2 linked regions of the Homo sapiens genome follow. The protein of the gene in region 1 interacts with the protein of each later gene in a pairwise test. Each region holds a gene or a part of one and is shown on either strand. Other genes may lie near its edges.

What was found. The genes of interacting proteins can lie anywhere in the genome.
Region 2: the proteins of CUTC (region 1) and SLC27A6 interact in a two-hybrid assay, tested with the Homo sapiens proteins (one large-scale study listed by BioGRID).

What each region holds. Positions count from the first base shown.
Region 1 is NC_000010.11:99,745,695-99,749,352, forward strand, and holds part of CUTC (copper homeostasis protein cutC homolog), read left to right. Parts: intron 1-1,562; coding exon 1,563-1,696; intron 1,697-3,658. UniProt on the Homo sapiens protein: May play a role in copper homeostasis. Can bind one Cu(1+) per subunit.
Region 2 is NC_000005.10:128,985,830-128,989,487, reverse strand, and holds part of SLC27A6 (long-chain fatty acid transport protein 6), read right to left. Parts: intron 889-3,658; coding exon 730-888; intron 1-729. UniProt on the Homo sapiens protein: Mediates the import of long-chain fatty acids (LCFA) into the cell by facilitating their transport at the plasma membrane.

The DNA of each region.
Region 1 (3,658 bases):
AAAAATACAAAAATTAGCTGGGCGTGGTGGCGCATGCCTGTAATCCCAGCTACTCGGGAGGCTGAGGCAGGAGAATCACTTGAATCAGGGAGTCAGAGGTTGCAGTGAGCCGAGACCGTGCCACTGCACTCCAGCCTGGGCGACAGAGCAAGACTGCATCTCACAAACAAAAAAAAGTAGGTTGGAAGTGAAACTTCATATAGTCTGTTGAAAACAACTACCCTTATGCTATGAACCTTGAGTATGTGGGGTTAATAGATTAATCCAAAATATTAGTCAGTAATGAGAATGTGAGCCAAGGCTTTTTCTAGAACTGGTGAGTACAGTGTTTCATTCTACCTAGTCCAATATTTCTGAAGCCTTAGAACAGTTTCCCAAATTTGACTCACCTGCCTATCACATTTAAAATTTTACCATATATGAGTGCTACCTGTGCACATTTTTATTTAATCATTTTCTTTAAATAAAATCTTAAGTATGCACCCATAAAAAAGAACAAGATCATGTCCTTTGCAGAGGCATGGATGGAGCTGGAGACCATTATCCTTAGCAAACTAACATAAGAACAGAAAACCAAATACCACATGTTCTCACTCATAAGTGGGAGCTAAATGATGAGAACACATAGACACATAGAGGGGAACAACACACACTGGGGCCTTTCCGAGGGTGGAGGGTGGGAGGACAGAGAGGATCAGGAAAAATAACTATGAGTACTAGGCTTAATACCTTGGTGATGAAATAATCTGCACAACAAACTCCCAAGACACGGGTTTATCTGTATAACAAACCTGCACTTGTACCCCTGAACTTAAAAAAAAGTTAAAAAAAAGTAAATTTATTTTAAATAGAAACTTTTATAATTACTTTATATTGAAAACTTTTCATTTCTTATCTGCATTTAAGTAAATATACTATTTAAATGTGTACCATTATTAAAATGATTATGCACAGTGGTATGTAGACTGTGGTGTGCTGATGAACTGGCTCCTAGAAAAAAGAGCCCTGATTTGTAGCATTTTTAAATTTCTGTGGTTTAAATACTCTACCTTCACTGAATTTTTTTATTATTATTAATTAAATTTTTATTTTTCTTTTGAGACAAGTCTTGCTCTGTCGTCCAGGCTAGGGCACAATGGTGCAATTGGCTCACTGCAGTCTCGACCCCTTAGGCTCAGGTGATCCTCCCATCTCAGCCTCTCGAGTAGCTGGGACTATAGGTGCACACCACCATGCCCAGATAATTTTTGTATTGTAGATATGGGGTCTTGCCACATTGCCCAGGCTGGTCTCAAACTCCTGCGCTCAAGTGATCTCCCCACCTCGGCCTCCCAAAATGCCAAGATTATAGGCACGAGCCACTGCACCTGGCCCTACCTTCACTAATTTCAGGCTGCCAGTGGATTAACAATCTGACTTGCAGAATTCTTGAGTGTTTAATAATTGGCCTTTGTAAGCCAGTACAAGCTAGGTCCAGCATGCCACTGCATGTATACTACATTTTGGGAAACTCTGCGTTAGAGATACCTGTTCAAAATTCACATCAGTTTTATTTATTTCAGCCTTTGACATGGTTCATGATCCAATGGCAGCTCTGGAGACCCTCTTAACCTTGGGATTTGAACGCGTGTTGACCAGTGGATGTGACAGTTCAGCATTAGAAGGGCTACCCCTAATAAAGCGACTCATTGAGCAGGTACGTGGACTTTATCTTTTTTTCCCCTAAGACTCTGTTGTGGTTACTCCTGACATTCTGCTGTTTAGCCAGTTTGTGAGACTATATATTACTGACTTTGTGGTTACTCTGTAGGAAAAGCAAGCAGGCAATAATGTATATAATTCTTATTTCTTTCACACAAGCCTTTTTAATAACCAAGGCTTTCAAGATCAAATTACATATAGATAGTGCCTAAAGATCTGATCTAACTTGGATAAGCACAGCAAATTTTACCTTTTCTCTGCCATGGGCATTGCAGTTTTTTTTACTTTTTATTTTTATTTTTTAGTTTAGATATAAGGTCTTGCTGTGTTGCCCAGGCTGGTCTCGAACTCTTGGGCTCAAGCCATCTGCCTTCCTTGCCCTCCCAGAGTGCTGGGATTACAGGCATGAGGCACTGCGCCCAGCCAGCATTGCAGTTTTAAGCCACATCTTTTCATTGTCAGCCCATGTATATTCAGGGGATCCCATATAAAATTATCATCTGGAGGTAAATTCCAAAACTAAAATTATAATCTTATTTCTTCTCATCTGTCAATATAAGAGGAAATATATTTTTCTATTTTATGAGTTTTCCTGGTGAGCTAGCATCATTTGTAGAGCACTCAGAAGGTGACTTTGTAATTAATAGTATGTGTATTTTTCTGATGTCAGTCCAGAGGCATTATAAGTTAGTGAGTACAGACTTTGAGATGAGAGAGTTGAGCGTTTGAGACTCGGGTTTGATACTTGCTATGTGATGTTGAGCAGGTTAATAGTCTTTAAGCCTCTCTTTCCCCCTGTGTGAAACTGAGATGAGTTTAATACTTATTTTAGAGTTTCTCAGAAGATTGCTAAAGATGGGATGTGTTAGAGGCTTAGCACAGTGGTTGGCATATACTAGGTCTTAATAATGTTAGGTTCTGTTATTACTGCTATTATTAATAATACTAATGTTCCTGTGTAGACATCTGCTTATTTTCACTTTTCTATAGCCATGAAAATAATTTTCAGAAATTTCTCCTAAAGATCTGATGTGACTTTGCTATTCTGGGATGTAATGGTTTCACAGACATTTATTAAATATATATTAGATGCAGGACATTTGTACTGTGGGGGTAACCAAGGGCTAAGTGTCTGTGTGTAGTCACTATCCTTACAATTTAGTGCAGAACAGGCACTTCTAATAGAGCAGGCAATTTTAATAGAGCTCTATTTTTAAAAGGTACTATAGGAGTACATTGGAGAGGAATTAACCCCAAATTTGGGGAAATGAAGGTTGGCAATAATTAGAGGAAGCTTCCCAGAAGAAAAGACATCCAGACTGCAGTGTTTTACTCATTTGAAGGATGTTTGGGAGTTATCTGTGTAAAAGTTGGGGGCAGTGGGAGTGAGGGTGAAGGGGATGTTGGTGGAATTGTTCCATACAAAACAAATAGTATAAGCAAGGGCTATAAACAAAAGCAAGCATAACTTAAAACACTGAGGAATGGCCAGAATATTGAATGTGGACAGAATGATATCCAGAGCCTTGAAAACCTTATTAAAGTATTTATTTTCATGGTGCAGCGGGGAGGCCTAAAGTGTTTTAAAATAGAAGAGTTGATGAGTCAGGTTTCCAGTTTTAAAAGGTTACTCAGTAAGGAGTAGCAAATAAGATATAACCGCCATAGTAATGTATTGCATTTCAAAATGTGTATGTGTGTGTGTATGTCTGTTATTTGTATGTTAATCTATTGGTTAGTAGGAAGAGCTACTCAAATATTCTCATACATTAACTTCACTGAAGTAACTACCTAGTAGTGTAACATACTAGTTAAAGCATAGGCTTTGTGATTGGACAGGTCTGTGTTTAAACCCTGGCTTTGACCCTTACTAATAGTGACCATGGATACATTACCTAGCCATCCTAAACCTCAGCTTTGCTCTTCTGCAAAGTTAGGATAATAATAGCACCTACCT
Region 2 (3,658 bases), on another chromosome or scaffold:
TGGATATTGATCATATTCTAAATATTCTATTCTAAAAATTACAGCATTTTAGACAAATACAAGTAGCAAATGATCTCCACTGTTTGTATATTATGTGAGGTCTAGAAACTGACACATAATCTTGCATGTTTATGAATGGAATCTACTGAGTCACAAGCTCTACCAACTAATTTATTGAGTGTCTATGGCAGACTGTTCGCAAAGATGGCCTCAGCAATTTCTTCAGGGCTCTTACTTTTGCAGTGTAAATTTGCTCCTTCTCCCTTCAAGAGGTGGCTTCTGTTTCTCCAGCCCTGGAATCTTGAATCTAGGCTGGCCCATGACTTACTTTGATCAATGGAATGAAGGTAAAATAACCTATGTGTCTTTCAAGACTAGGCCTTAAGATTTATGCAGCTTCCATACTCACTCCCTTGGAACATTTCTACTACATTTGAGGAATCTGGGGTAGTTTGTTTGAGGGTGAGTGACTACAAGGAGAGAGAAGCCCAGCCAATAGCCAGCTCCGACCACATGGCCAAATCCTCAGAAAACTGTTCTTTTCACCTCAGGAAAACACTGAATATGCCATAAAATTGTGTAGTTTTTTTAAAATAAATATTGTGTTATAATAAAATAATATGCATATAATCACTCTAAATTCTACCGATACAGCTTCAAATGTTAATAAATACTTGTTCTAATTATTAGACATTTTGAAAACTTATCAAAAAGAAAATAAAGCCTTACCCAACTCAACACATCCAGAAATTCCCAGGATAGCTGCTGAACTATGATACAGAGGAAGGGTTATATAAACAATGTCATGAGCAGTACAACCAAAAGCCCACAGGACAGCAGAACCCCTTAAAACCTGCAGCTGACTAATCACAGCTGCTTTTGGTAGACCTGGAAGAAAAGAAAAGAACAGGAAATATATATACACACATACATACATATACATATGCATACATATTCATATAACTAGAAAGGAAGTAACAGAAAGAAGATGATACTGATAACAACTACACTAGCAATTGACAGAAAATATATCAAAGTAGTCTATCTGCTTTGTAAAAGAGGCCATTCTGACTTTAGCAACGCTCCTTTGACAGGCTGCTAAGTAGGCCTGTATCTCAAACGCTATGTAATTTTATCGTTGGCCTTTCTGGATAGATCTAAGATTCTAGAAATTAATTACAGTGGTAGCACACATTTGGTTTCAGTAGCTATCTGATAAAGAGCATTTGGGAGGTAAGTTTTTGTCAGTCCTTATGTGCCTGAAAATGTCTTTTTTTGCCACCTATACACTTGAATGGCTGCTTGTAAAGAATTCTAGGTAAGTAGTCATTTTTACGCAGGACTTTGAAGGCATTGCTCTATAATCTTCTGACTTCCAGTATATATATTGAGCAATTATCAGTCTTTCTGATTTCTTATCCTTTGGATGCAACATGGTATTTCTATTTTTTTTCATTTTTGGAATCTTCTATTTGTTTTCAGTAGTCTGTAATATCATGATGACTTTTACTGGGACCAGTCTCATCTATCCATTTCGCTGGGAAATTTTTAGGCTTTTTCAGTCTAACAACTCAGGTCTTATAGTTCTAGATATTTTTGAATTTGAAAACAAAATAATTTTCACACCCCATTCTTCTCTTTCCTTCCTTATTTCTGTTCTTTTTGCCCATTGCTTTTTTCTGTTACATTTATTTGTGTGTTCATCCTTTCATTTTTAGAACTCTTGATTTTCTGAAGATCAGCCCTCCTGGACAGAATCACTGGTTTCCTAATGTTGCCTATCCTGTTTTCCTTCTCTTACCTTTTGCTTTACTTTTTGAGAGATTTTCCAACAATTATGTTCTCTGAATATTCCTCTTTTTGTAGTATGTTATTTTTATATTATTGACACTTTTTTGTCCCCATCTTTCAGAATATTAACAATAATAATTTTTTGAAAATTTCTCCTCTCTATCTTGTCAGTTTTCTCCAACATCCTTTTTATCTTTCGTTTGTATTGGTCTCAATCTAATCTAGAATATATTCAGGAGGATTTTTTTCAAATATCTGGAGACTACTGACTATCAGTTTATATTTAAAAGTGCAGACACAAAAACACAAAATAAACAAACAAAATATTAACTAGAATCTCTGTGTCTGAAGAATACTTATTTACTAGTTGGTTTCACTGTCCAGGACATTCTGTTGGGGGAATCCATCATGATCAGTGTCTTTCAATTTTTACATGTGGGCTATTCAGATTCCTCAGACAAGAATCTCAAAGATTAAAACAGTCAAGTATTAAAAGAAGTTATATATATTAAAGAGAACATATACATATATGTATATCTATCTATATACATATATACATATTTATAGGGAGGGAGACTTTCTTTTATATCCCCTACTTTTTAAACCTCTGTTCTTCCTGGTATTTTCAGAAGTTCATCTTTTCCAGAATTACGTCTCAGGACTTCTATCAGGGTGGAAGAAGCAATCCAGGACTATAGTTCCTTCTTAAACAAACTTCCCATAAAGTTTCCTGCTTATAGTTTCACATTTATTTTCTACTCTTTGAGGTACCTGGTACCCAATTTCTGAGCCTTTCTGGGGTTTGGTGGGGGCAAATGAATTTTCTTCAAGGCTTCACCATAAGCTTCAGCTTCTTGGGTCTGCGGTGTCTGCCACCACACTCAGTCATCACCTCCTTTTCTAAAATTTTGTAGCTGTCATCTCTAGTTCCATTCCTTTTGTCCTAAGGGACTGTGTATCTGTTCAATCTGCCAACTTCTAGACCTGTTATTATTCAATAGACCTGATTAGGTAGCCTGAACAATCTGAGAAAGAAGCTCCCTCAGTCTGGACAGAGTAGCCACACACATATTAGCACTTTTCAGTTCATTTATCAAAACTGTTCTAATCATGTAAAAAAAAATTATATTCTCCAGTCTAAAAGGGATTACAATTAGGAACTGAATAGATTTTTAAAATGTAAGAAAAATTTTACTATGCAATAGTTGCTCACAACCTATGCACAAGAAATGAGTAACAATACTCTTAATATGTCTAAGTCAAATCAACAATCATTTTCAAACTAATAATGAAAGCCTATTTAGGCTACCATTAATACCATTCAGTTTTTCCTAGAAATCAATTAAGTTTAACATTTCTTTTGAATTCTCTTTCTTTTCTTTCTTAAGACTGAGTCTCACTCTGTTGCCCAGGCTGGAGTGCAGAGGTGCAATCAGCTCACTATAACCCCGAACTTCTGGGATAGAATGATTCAACTGCCTCAGCCTCCTGAGTAGCTGGTACTACAGGTGCATGCCACCACATCTGGCTATTTTTTTTAATTTTTTTGTACATATGAGGTCTCACTGTGTTGCCTAGGCTGGTCTCAAACACTTGGCCTCAAGTAATCCTCCTGCCTTGGCCTCCAAAGTGTGTGATTACAGGTGTGAGTAGTCACTGTGCCAGGCCCTTCTTTTGAATTCTCAGGCAGTTTTATTATTGTTATTGCTGTTGTTTACTTAAAATAAAGCTTATTTACTTGATTTTATTTTGTATCTTAGTCCAAACCTGCAGTGCCTTCAAGAGTTCCTGTTTGTCACATGATTCAATTACCCTGACCAAAATCAGGAGAGCCAGCAACAGGTGCTTAAATTGCCGGTATACCTGG